3 separate regions of the Homo sapiens genome follow, and all the other regions are linked to region 3. Evidence: fine-mapped expression QTL. A gene starts in region 3. Each other region holds a variant in brackets. All regions are shown on one strand. Distances are from middle to middle.

Region 1 (4,243 bases), 84 kb after region 3:
CAGCAGTGAGGAAAGAAGAGCAACCAGCTCAATGAGCAAAATGACCATGGCTCTTCTACATTTCCCCAGACTGACGAACATGCCTTCACATTCTTTCAAGTGCTAGTAATAGAGGATAAGATGATAAACCATTTTAGGTTAGAGATCCAACTGGGATATAAATAAATCATTCCATAGGTACAATGTAGTTTCTGTTTGTGTCCAAAATATTGCAAGCCTCTAGCCTCTACTGGCACCCATACTTCTAATTTTAATGTATTTCCCCAAAGCAATTTTCACAGTGTTTTTTGGTGCTGTTTCCTTCTGTCCATCACAGTTTCAAGGCTCAGGCTGTTCTCTGTTTGGCTGGCTGAATGAAGCCATGTGATATACCCTGAGCCAGAAACGACCAAAGGAACCTGAAAGTAACAGAGGTGTTTCTTTTGTTTTGGAGTTTGAATGTCTGACGCTGGAATCCTAGCATAGCATGGATTAGGTCCTGGGTTGTCACTTCCACCATGGGTTATATCATCATCAAGGGAATTTAATATTTTTATATGAGAGCACTTAACTGTAACCAAGATGTTAAATTAGCTTTACCCATCAAATTGCTTCTTTCTGTCTCCCACTACCTTTTAAACTTTATTTAATAAAAAAAAGTTTTCTGCTGCCACTGGAAGAAAACTTAGCAGATCCTGGGACATTTTGCTTACTTTTAGGAAGAGTTCAATGGTTACCTTAAGTTACTCAAACCAGTTTTATTTTGAAATAGATGATGCCATCCCCTGAAATAACAAACTCCAATTTCAACTTTATTAGAGTTAAATCTCCTCTCCTTCCCCAGCTGGGGCCTGCTTCAGAAAGGCTGCCTTCCTTCAGGGAAGGAGTGTGGTTGACTTCTTCACTCTACTTCCACTTCTTCTCTCAGGTCGCTAACTCTGCCTTCTGGCCCCCTGGGGTTGGAGGAAAAAAAGGAGTAGAATAAAAGAGGAGAAGAAAGTTTTTACTTGATTTGGCAACATCATGTTCTGGCCTCTTACTCTTGGGGCCAGACAGGCCCAGAGAGGGACATTTTTATGGGATATTGAAAGATTCCCATCACTGGGGACATCTTACCTCTAGTCCTTGATTCATGCTAATTCTTCTCTGTTCTAGGGAGTGACTTTGGACTCATCCTATATGCTCCCTTAGGAAGCTGTCTACCTACAGTGTGTAGCTACTAGGATCCATCTGCCCCCTCAGAGAGGCCCCAGGTTGACCCCAGCCAGCTCTCCCTTGCTCCTAGCCTGGACTGGCCTGGTCCATGGGGAACACTCACATCATTTGCCTGTGGGGATGCAGAAGAAAATGTCCTGGTTCTGTGCCAGAACAGTTTGTCAGCCTGTCCCTTTCCCTCCAAATTTCCTGAGTGGCACTCAGACCCCACTCTGACCTCCTACCCATCCTCATGCAAGTATCTCCCATGAAGTTCTCTAAGAAGACACTTTGAAACTCTTCTTGCACACAGCTTGAGGTAAAAAGGTGAAACCCCCTCCACGCCACCCACTCCAAACACACACATCTTCAGCACTCTGGAATTCCTTCTCACAGAATCCTCTCTCCTTGCCATAATCAACCCCTTTTAATCACTTGGACCTGGCTGAAGGTTTCAAGAATTGTGGAAGTCATTTGCTACTATATTCTTTGTAGAGTCTGCATTTGAATCTGGAATCTCACTTCAGTGGGCAGCATCTGTTGTATCTGGGGGCCTTGGGTAAAACTTCAACATCCTGTCATCTCATTTTCAGTACAGTACAAAGCTCCCTCTCTCCTATTTTTCTTTTTAAAGTAAAATATAAGCTAAAATTGGAAATATTTTTCTACAAATCAATTCCAAGAAATTTCTCTAATAACTTCGAATAAAGTTGAAAGCTTATACCTCACTGAGTCTTCTCTCTAGAGAAGAGGGGTTACTTGTTTCCAGAGCATCTTGGTCAATCCTTAGGCTCTAGATTTTGGGAACTTCTTTCTTACATTGAATCAAACATTGCTTCCCGGCCGGGCGCGGTGGCTCACGCCTGTAATCCCAGCACTTTGGGAGGCCGAGGCGGGCGGATCACGAGGTCAGGAGATCGAGACCATCCCGGCTAAAAAACGGTGAAACCCCGTCTCTACTAAAAATACAAAAAATTAGCCGGGCGTAGTGGCGGGCGC[T/C]TGTAGTCCCAGCTACTCGGGAGGCTGAGGCAGGAGAATGGCGTGAACCCGGGAGGCGGAGCTTGCAGTGAGCCGAGATCCCGCCACTGCACTCCAGCCTGGGCGACAGAGCGAGACTCCGTCTCAAAAAAAAAAAAAAAAAAAAATTGCTTCCCATGGCTTTACCCCAGTGATTCTGCTAACATGGATTACATCTACTTGTACTTCTATGCAGCCATTCCTTCATACATTCCCAGTTTCTTCCACCCTCCTTGAATATCTTTACTATCCTGTTGCTATCTGTTATTTTTCAAACTAAGGAGAAATAATATCTATGTCATTCACTCCCTCAAGTTCTCCACATCCTTCTCCCTCCAGTTTGTTGGGCAAGGCTAATGCAGGTATAATATCTTGATCTTCTTAAGTAGATGTGTGTACATAAACACAAGGCCACGTGCTGAGTGAAGACATCATTCAAAATGACTGCGGGACCATGTCATCTGGCAGATGGTATAGTTAATACTGCATATGGAACATTCAGTCTGTGTGCATTTAGAGTATTCTGTTCTTTGATTATTCAACCCACGAGAGCACACGCCAATCTTTAGCTGGCCCAATATAATGCATGCAAGACTCCCACTGAACTCATGAGTCATCTGGTGTTATATAGTCCCACAAAAGGGCTTAACACTAAGGAGGCATTTTTCTACCTCTGCCTTTAAAAATAGCCAACATTAATAGATTGCTTATTGTATGCCAGGCAGTGGGGGCTGATTTCTTTATGTGGAGTGTTTCACGTAATCGTCACAACCCCGTGAAGTAGAGGCACTATTATTATCCCTATTTTTCCAGAGGATAGTGAGATTTGAAGAAAGTAAGTAATTTCCCCAAGGGTAGAAAGCTAGTAAGTGTTGGGGTGGAAAATTGAACCCAGGCAGGCAGTCTCATACCAGAGTTCCTAAATCTAATTGGACTATACTTGCAATGATATTGTTTTGAGAGAATATCTTTTTTTTTTTTTGAGACAGAATCTCGCTCTTGTCACCCAGGTTGGAGTACAGTGGGGCGATCCTGGCTCACTGCAACCTCTGCCTCCCGGGTTGAAGTGATTCTCCTGCCTCAGCCTCCTGAGTAGCTGGCATTACAGGTGCCTACCACTATGGTTGGCTAATTTTTGTACTTTTAGTAGAGATGGAGTTTTGCCATGTTGGCCAGGCTGGCCTTGAACTCCTGACCTCAGGTGATCTGCCTGCCTCAACCTCCTAAAGTGCTGGGATTACATGTGTGAGCCACTGCACCCAGCCTGAGAACATCTTTTTTTTAAAAAAAAGATTCAAAACCATGCAAACTAAATGGAGTAAGATCTTAGAAATTTTGGAAAAGGTCATTTAAATTTGGATTAAATTTGGATTAAAGAATACTGGCATCTTGGCATTTGTCACAAGAACAGGCAGGTGACCGGGCCGTAGGGAATACAGTGCATCGCATTTAGATGCACTTCTGCTGCATGAAGATGAGATATCCGGGGCTCTGCATGCAGGAGAAAAGCTCAGAGGAGCTGAGGGCCTTTCTCAGCTTAACATAAACCATCTTCTCATGTCAATTAAATGTTGGTTTATCCACACAGCTTGTTAATAAAACAGCTTAGTTAGCTTCCTTGTTAAACTGTCTAGCTGTCTAGTAACCAATTTAACTGGCAGGGAACACTTGACATGCAAAAAGAAAGTGTAATCTGAGGTTTACTTAGCACAAAGAAGTGAATTTTAAAGCAATGTAAACTGTCCTAGAAGCCAAAGAAGATAAATCTGATGTATGTGTCGTGAGTCAAAGTTTAAACTATTTTATACCATAAACCTTGAAAGTGATACAATTCTCTTGGCTGAAACCCTGCTTACACATGCACTGTAGGGAAAGGGGCGTCAACTGATAAATATGATTTCAATTCCTTTGACTCTTTTCTCTCTTAAACACATGATCAGTAAATGATCATCACAAACATATACTTTATCATACACAGATTCTGGGAGGTCCAAGAAAAGTGAAGAGGAATAAAAAGTATTTCTTTTGCCTTTTTAATCATGGATTAGAATTT
Region 2 (4,243 bases), 100 kb after region 3:
GCTACATCCTGTGGTTGTAACCTCTAGGTAAATTTCCACCAAAAGCAATGAAAGATTTTCCAGAGAAAAAGCAGAAGAATCAGCCCCATTGTTCTGCAGCTGACTTAATTCTCCTCTTTATGTTTTAGAAATACCTAAGGATTACAGTTTTACAATGTATGGAGAAATAGATATGCTAACAACAATGAAATTGTTGTGGGAGCCATATAGAGAAATATCAGAGAAATTATTTAGATCAGAATAGCTCATACAAGGAAGATTTTTTTAAAATATGGACATTGAACAGATAAAGGAGACAGTAATATTTTAATAGGATAGTGAAAAATATAGCAGATTGACAGTGACAGCAGAAAAAGAGCAGGAATACAGATATTTTCAGAAGATTAAAATGGTACTGTGTACCCTCAAACCAGGCAAGTTTTTCTGAGAGGTCTCTAAACATATCTCCTGCATAGAGTAGATGATTTTTCTTGGAGCTGTCATAAATGCTTTATAGTTCTCTACATTAATTCATGTCGAATATTTTCCATGGTTGGTCAGACTCAGACTTAAAATAGATCTGAGAAAGGTCTTCAGGTTTACTTTCAGTACCATTATTCACTTCATAGCCAGCTGGGTGACAACATGGTGTGTGGCCAATTAAAGTTTACAAGGTAACCTTGCCTGAATTATCCTGGTCCATCGAATACAAATAGTAAAGTGAAGGTGAGAGAATAGAATTGCAAGGAACGTGGGAGAAGCAGTTGTCAAAAAGCAAAGCAAACACAAGAAAAAAAATCTGTGAGATCACTCAGAAATGATGCTAATAATTGTGTGCTCTCACCCTACAGTCTCCACACACATGGGGTTCCTCGTGCTTCACAATCAGCCCCTGTAGTCAGTCAGTAAACCTTCAGGTCCCAATCATGTGGTTTCTCCAGGTGAAACAATAGCCATGTACACCTTTATGTGCGTCCTGCCTTTTACATGTTACTTCGTTATCCTGTATACTCTACCACTTGCCTCAGCTGAGGAAAACAAACTTATGCTTTCATGGGCAACTGGAGATGTACTCACTTAGTTCCTTAAGTAACTGGGGAGGGAGGGTGGGAATCAACCTTTAAAGATAATTATCCTTCTTTCCTTATCCCATTTACTTCATTATTACTATTATTATTATTATTATTGAGACAGGGTCTCACTATGTTGCTCAGGCTGGTCTCCAACTCCCGGCCTCAAGCAGTCCTCCTACCTCAGCCTCCCAAAGTGCTAGGATTCCAGGCATGAACCACCATACCCGGCCCCATTTACTTTAAATAAGTTTTCTGAAATGAGTTTATATATGTAAAAACATCTGGCAAAGAACCTAATACATAATAAGTGCTCAGTAATTAAGACCCTCTTTCTTACCCACTTCTTACTAAACTATATACATTCCAACAATCCTCCGAGTATCTTCTCTGTGATATCAAACAGGTGGCTGAGATTGACAGACCAGAGCTGCTCCCTGTCCTTCATAGATTCCTTATTCCTTTAACACTAGTAATAGAGATAAGGCACTACCTAAAAGGGAAATCTCAGTCAATATAGGTTATACCTTCACTACATTTGAACCTTTCACCATAGGAGGACAGCTGTTATGTTACATAAAGGCTGATTCCTGATGTTTGATATCACTGATCACTGTCTTTCTTGTGGCTACAGCACAAATCCTAAGTCTCCTGCTTACTTAATATAACGGTACATGTCTATTTTGGGGTGCTCCTGGATTTTTTAAGTGTGCAAAGAAGATAAATATATTTTAGGTCAATCTGAGTTGGATTTTTGACTCATTAAAAATATTATACTCCTTGGACCCAGATTAGGAGGTGACATATCTGAAATTAAGTAAGTTGAGGACTTTGCTAGGCATTCTCAGGGACTCAAGAAACACTGCAAACAATTCATTTCAAGCAAAGTGGACACTCAGCTTCAGCTACAAGATTACTCTTCCACAACAGATGGTTTCCACACCTGAATTGTGACACCACTTTTCTTGGCTGAGAACTTTGGCCTTGGTGCCACAAAATAAGATGATGAGGCTGATTCTTGCTTTGGCGAGGTGGGAATGCCCACAGGCACTGGGGATGCACTGACTGGTGAGGAGGCCTCTGCAAAGAAGGAAGGAGGAGAGGTATAGGCTGGTACCGAGTACACTGACGAAGCCTGCACATTCGTAGGTGAGGCAGCATTCACTGGCC[G/A]GGGAGGAAGAGCTTGCTTCATGGCCAGGGCTGAATTGACCTTGACTGATGACTTCTGGGGGAGGCCATCCTTTGCATCTGGAGGTTGGAAAGTAAACAAGGATGCATTGAGCTGATACGGTTGGTGCTTCATGACATCTAATGCATTGAGGGGTTTCTTTCCCTTTTTCTTGCCCATTTTGGAGGGCTGTGCAGCTGATGGCTGAGACTTGAGAGCAGCCAGTGGGTAAGACGGCGAGTGGATAGGATTATAGGCCACAGGAGGAGGTGCTCGGACATTGGAGGAGTACTTCCAACTGGCCGGGAGAGATGGAGTGGGAGACTGAGCTCGAGCAGCGTGGGCCTGCACCGTGTCTGAATCGACCACATACTTCTCCATTCTCGACTGCCTTTTAGCAAAGAGCTGAGCTCCTCTCCCACTCATTCCTGGAAGCTCATTGGATGGTCCCACTGCACCAGGCTGAACAGCATTGACTGTTGGTGTGGAAACTGTTGGTTTGGGTGTGTAATTCTGACTGGCTACTGCTGCTTGTGGTCCTTTGAAGGGACCAGCCACGTTCAAAGTACTTGCAGGCCGGGCAGGAGGGTAAGAAGGCTGGGCTATTTTGATGGAGGAGACAACGGTGCCCTTTGATGGGTTGGATGTGGGGAAGGCAGGAGGTTGGGTGGGAGCCACTCCTGGAGACCAGACTGGGGAAACTGGAGTTACTGGTTGGGAGGATGAGGACTTGACTGCAGGTTTTGGAGCAACAGGAGGAGGGGTCTTTTGTTTGGCAGAGGAGCTTTGCATGAAATTACAAGCCTCTGCCCCCAAGCTGAGGTAGTCTTCTTCCGGTCCGGAATCACCTCCAGCTCCAGTGCCCCGTTTGCCTTCTGAATTTTGAAGGAGTGACAAGAGTTCAGGATTTGGGCTTACTTTGGGCTCTTTAAAAGTAAACATGGGTTTTGTCGTGCTTCTCCTTTTGGCCTCCTGCAATATTCCTGTTCTTTTTGCTGGCACTGAGATCCTCTCATCTCGGGAAGCTATTCGCTCAGACGAATCGTAAAAGGCTGGCTGGGACCACGGGGCAGGCTGGGGCCATGGAGGGGGCTGTGCTGGGCCAGCAATCGGACTTGAAACCCCTCTGGAGAAGGCGTCAGGGGGAGGAGTGACTGCAGAGTAAGGTGGAGGTGCAGGAAAGTCAGCAATGGGACTCGTCATGTTTCGGGTTGGCGAGAAGGGGGTAGCTGGCTGATTCACAGACCCTGGGAAGGGTTTGGCCGTTCTATTCATGGGGACCATCCTCTGGATGTTTGCTGTCTCAGATGTCCCACTGAAGCCATTCTGTTGGGGAACATGGCCAAGACCATGACTCACCTCGATGTAGCTTTTGCTCACAGAGCTCTGCGTTCTTACCGACTCTTCCTCCTTTCTTTGGTAAGAAGTCGTGGTTCTCAGGCCATCGGTCTGGGCAGCATCTTGTTCTCTGCTTGGCGTTCCACCTACCTTGTCCTCTTCTTTTTGGGCTGTGATCTGATCCATTCTCTCCCTCCTCTTGGCAAACATGAGGGCTCCCTTGCCTGTGGTGTCTGGTAACATCTCCATCTTGTCCCCTCTGTTCAGTTTCTTTTCAATGTCCACCAGTCCAGAATCCCAGTCAAAGTTCACAACTTGTGTGTTGTCGTCAACGTCAGACAATAACTCTTCATCCACCTCTGATTCGCTTGCACCAAGAAATGCTACTTCACATGTATCCTCCTTGTCACCTTCTTCCTCCTCGTCCGCCTCTCGCTCAAGCTCGCCAGTACCGTAGCTAACTAGGGTGTATTTCCTGGCCCTCCGACGTCGCTTCTTAAACATCAACACCCCCTTGGAGTTGGGGTTGGGAGCATCCGTTAGAAGAAGGGCAATGCTTTTGCATTTAGATTTTGCTTCCTTCACTTGTTTTTCTGACAGGCTTTCACTCCTCCTGAGCCCTAGGGAAAGCAAAAAAAAAAAAATTATATTGAGCTGATGAGTTCAAGGAAGACACCACAGCAACTCA
Region 3 (4,243 bases):
AAAAGTCTTTGATTCTGTTCCTCTTGCTTTATGGAAGGTGTAATATGAAAACATTATGCTCAATACTCTTCCCGGGTCTCAAGCTTCTAGGTCTCAATATTGTAGTGGTGAAAGGCTGCATTCCTTGTCAATACAGGGGAAATAAGGAGGCATTCTGAAAATGCCACTAATATATCTGGAATGGCTCAAATCAGCTCCTAAGAGGACCTGAATATTTTTCTTAACATTTAAAACTGATGCTATACGTTGCTTATAAACAAAGTTGAATTTCCTTTATAAGAATCAAAATGCAAGTTATAAAGCATTGCTTTCTCAAGTTAGTTGCTAGAATTTAAAGAAAAGGAGAGAGTGAAATATTACCTTGCACGTAATATATATTAAAATTTTTTTGAGTCATATGCTTTGAGACTACAATAACTTTATATTTTCTCAGAAGTTACAAATAAAAGTAGACTTTGCACACAAAATATGTTAGTAAATCAATTAACAAATATGAAGGGTTAAATAAATAAGCAATAGAAATGGAGTTAAATAATAAGCAATAAATATGAATTCCAACTTAATAGCTTGATAAAAAAGATGATAGAACTTATTTTGAGTGATTTATATAATGTAAGGTAAAAGAAATCAAGCTAAACCATGTGGGATGGACAATAAAGACAAGATTGTATGAGACTTGTCCAGAAAAAAAAAAGAATCGAGAGTGATCTTAACTTATAATGTGGAAGGCAAGCCAAGCAGAATGTACATCAGCTGTCAGATTGCTTCATGCCTTTTACAGCAGTTGTTCCTCTGAAAATAGCTTCCAAATGAGAAAGGATGACTACAAAAGGATTAGTTACCATAGGCTTTTCTACACCCCCTAGAGCTCCAGGTTTGTTATGACAGAACAGCAAGAATCTAAAGGAAGTAAACTATGGAATATTAAACAACGTCAGGATGGAGCCACATTCATGCTGTGCTATATTAATGCTACGAAGGATTTTTATTGATACCATTTCCATGGACTTCCTTCATGATGGCTGTTGCTTGCTGTTTTCTCTGCTTCATCATAGTATTATGTGATAGCATGGTTTTTTTGTTCCCTGTTAAAAACAAAGGGACATTATTGAGGCAATGTGAAGAACTCATTTGGAGTGTCTTATAATCACTGTTTTGAAAGACAACATCTTTGTTCTTTATTAAAAAGTTATTATCGCTTGCTACTGAAAGACTTCAATACGCATTCCTTATCTGGTGACAGAGTATGTTATTCATTGACAGGCAATGTCACAGTGAACAGAGACCCAGTCTGGACATTAATACAATGATCATCAGGCAGTGAGAAACAATGAAATTGCTGGTCTCCTTTCCCCTCCCTCTCTTTTCTCCACAGTATTTTAGTCTGTCATTGTCTCCTCACTGGCCTTCATTTGTACCAGCATCACACTCCATCAATTCCAGCAAACTGTAAGAATGAAGAAGACACTAGACTAAACCAGAATTCTTTGGTGGTAGCATTTTAATATTGGCAACAGCTGCCCTTTAAAGCAGAGAATGCCCATTTATGAGTCACAACTCTGAATATCCTTGGACAACTGACTAATGAAACATTTTAGGAAACAACATACTCACCTTGCTGTTAGATTGTGCTTTTTCAGCGGGGATGAATCCCAGTTTGTGGAGGAAGACTCTGGAGATGGACTATGGATGGCACTTGGGCCTGATGGTTTTTATCCTTGAACCTGGGACAGCATGGTCCCTACTCTGACTCAAACTGGGGACTGAGCTTTTCTGAAGAGACTGGCATTCAGCTGACATCAACTGGCTATATATAGCACCAAATACTTTAGCTACTCATATCTTCCTGGCGAAAGGGAGGAACAGGGAAAGATTAGGCTCTCTCCATTGTGTTTCTAGTTTGTGAGATGGTTAAATGAAACGTTCATTGGACATGCAGAAAGTTTTTAGTGAGCACTTTCTGTTGAACAGATAGTAGCCAAAAGGGATTTTAAACACTTTTAAACATCTAGCTCTTATGTTACATGTTAATTGAGGTGGCAAGAGACACATGCATGAATCAGAACAGAATGATAGATTTTTCATAATTAAAATGAACAATATAGGCAGTAATATCTATGTAGACTCAAGAAGAAAGGAAGTAATGTGGGGTGGATCAATAGAGCCAGTTCTTAAGCTGTAGTGAGAACTCATGCTAGGTTGAGAAAAGTATGTAGTATTTGAATAGTGAACTCAGGAAGCATTTTGAAATGAACCATTAGAGGATAAGCCATGAAGCTGGGTAAAAGCTGAGACTCATAACTGGGTCATGCTTTTTGAAGGGCCTACAGAGACCAGTCCCTGCAAAGTTGACCAGTCTTTACAATGTCTAGGGTCAAGGATTTTCATTTGCAGGCCTGACAAGATTTGAAAGGTTTGCCTGTCAAAAGGTTTGGCCTCCTTGATGGTCCCTGGACACAAAAACGTGCTCTCATCTCTGGGCTTTTCCTTTTACTGTTTCCCCCTTTCCTTTTACTATTTCCCCCTTTCCCTGGTTGAAATGGTGTCCTCAACAGATAATCATTATGTTAATTTTGGTTTCCAAAATGAAAATAGATACTGTATTCCTTTTACTATTTCCCCCTTCCATACTTTCCCTCTACTCACATGGCACAGTCATGCATTCAGGACTCTGCTCAGATAACAATCCCTCATAAAATCCTTCCCTTATCACCTTGTCTAAAATATCACACTGTGCCACTCTCTAGTCCCTTACTCTGCTTCATTTTCTTTATATTTTTCTATTAGTTAAGATAAAAGTCAAATGGGAGTGACAGAAACCCCCCCAAAACAGAACTGTAAAAAGATGGAAGATGTTTCTCTCACAGGTAAGCTTAGTCTAGAAGTAAGTAATTGAGGGTTTGCATGACTGACATAATTATCAAGGGCTCAGTTACCCTCTAACTTTTTGCTCCACTATCCCTAAAATGCAGACCCCTTGGGCCTAATTGGCTGCCCCAGCTCCAGTCAGCATGCATATATTTCAACCAGCAGGAAAAAGAAAAAAAAATGAGAAGGGAACACTGTCTTCTTTTCAGAACATGTCTGATATTTTGTTCATACTTCTGTTTACATCCCATTGGGCAGAACTTAGCCATATAGCCGTACATAACTCAAGAAAGGTTGGGAAGTGTAGCTTCTATTCTAGGTGGTCATGAGCCCAATTAAAATTCATACATAACTTACTAACAAAGAAATAATTGTTGCTGAGTGACAACTCAGTTTTTTCACTAAGAACATGCCAACATTATTCTATCTATCTATCTATCTATCTATCTATCTATCTATCTATCTATCTATCTATCTAGCAAAAGTTTATGTTATGTACAATTCTAAAGGTTGAAATGGCGTCCTCAACAGTTTTACTAGCACCTGTAATCCCAGCTACTCTGAAGGCTGGGGTGGGAAGATTGCTTGAGTCCAGGAGGTAGAGGTTGCATCTATTTATGTGATATCTCTTTTTTCTACTAAACTATGAATCCTATAATGGCTTGGGCTTTGTATCTTCAGCAGTTGGAATTGTATCTGGCATATGGTAAGCACTCAATATTCATTGAATGAATGAATAAATGAGTAGGTTGGAGATTAACTGCAGAATGCATTAAAGGTTTGGCATGAGTTTGGAATTCAAATGAACAGTCGCTTGAATGTACAAAGGTGGTGGCTATTTGTGGGAGGAATTGTATTTTATAAGATTGAAATCGGTTATACATTTTGGTGCCTGATCATAGGATTGAAAGTTTAAGGTTGTAAATCACAGCACTTTGGGAGGCCAAGGTGGGTGGATCGCTTGAGCCCAGGAGTTTGAGACCAGCCTAGGCCAGCTAGCAAAACTCTGCCTCTACCAAAAAAGCAAAAACAAAAACAAAAAACCCAAAAATTAGCCAGGTGAGTGGCATGCACCTATAATCTCAGCTACTCCAAAGGCTGGGGTGGGAAGATTGCTTGAGTCCAGGAGGTAGAGTTTGCAGTAATCCATGATCAAGCCACCGCACTCCAGCCCGGGCAAGACCAGACCTTGTTTAAAAAAAAAAAAAAAGAGAAAGCTAAAGGTTGTAGATAGCAGGTTTAAGCTAATCTAGCTAACCTATTGCAATTGTTTCTAAACAAACCATTTGCATTGAAAGTATAATTAGGTATCAAATGAGAAACAATTTTGCCAAAGCAAATAAATTTAAATTCCCTCTCAAAATCCCTTGAGTGC

Direction of the effects. Positions count from the first base shown, and alleles are read on the strand shown. Sizes are in standard deviations (SD) of each study's normalised expression.
With allele T in place of C in region 1, the expression in transverse colon of the gene that starts at base 1,765 in region 3 is higher (small effect, 0.35 SD a copy in GTEx).
With allele G in place of A in region 2, the expression in gastroesophageal junction of the gene that starts at base 1,765 in region 3 is lower (moderate effect, 0.43 SD a copy in GTEx).

The links. PIP is the estimated chance that this variant, and not a neighbour inherited with it, causes the effect.
Region 1: its variant is the best candidate, but not a certain one, in a credible set for the expression of MYOZ2 in transverse colon (GTEx, PIP 0.64).
Region 2: its variant is the best candidate, but not a certain one, in a credible set for the expression of MYOZ2 in gastroesophageal junction (GTEx, PIP 0.77).

The regions. Positions count from the first base shown.
Region 1 is chr4:119,049,262-119,053,504 of GRCh38, reverse strand. The region is part of intron 4 of SYNPO2 (synaptopodin 2); the gene reads right to left. Among named protein-coding and RNA genes, the nearest start is that of SYNPO2-AS1, 67 kb to the right of the region's middle. The variant T/C (reference allele first, on the strand shown) is at 2,173.
Region 2 is chr4:119,029,777-119,034,019 of GRCh38, reverse strand. SYNPO2 (synaptopodin 2) reads right to left here. Exons shown (of 5, transcript NM_133477.3): 4 at 1,993-4,175. Among named protein-coding and RNA genes, the nearest start is that of SYNPO2-AS1, 47 kb to the right of the region's middle. RefSeq lists an enhancer at 1,849-2,348. The variant G/A (reference allele first, on the strand shown) is at 2,220.
Region 3 is chr4:119,133,354-119,137,596 of GRCh38, reverse strand. It overlaps MYOZ2 (myozenin 2), which reads right to left and starts at 1,765. Exons shown (of 6, transcript NM_016599.5): 1 at 1,615-1,765; 2 at 996-1,085. The coding sequence starts at 1,071. LOC102723967 (a long non-coding RNA gene) reads right to left here. Exons shown (of 3, transcript XR_001741422.1): 3 at 4,043-4,243.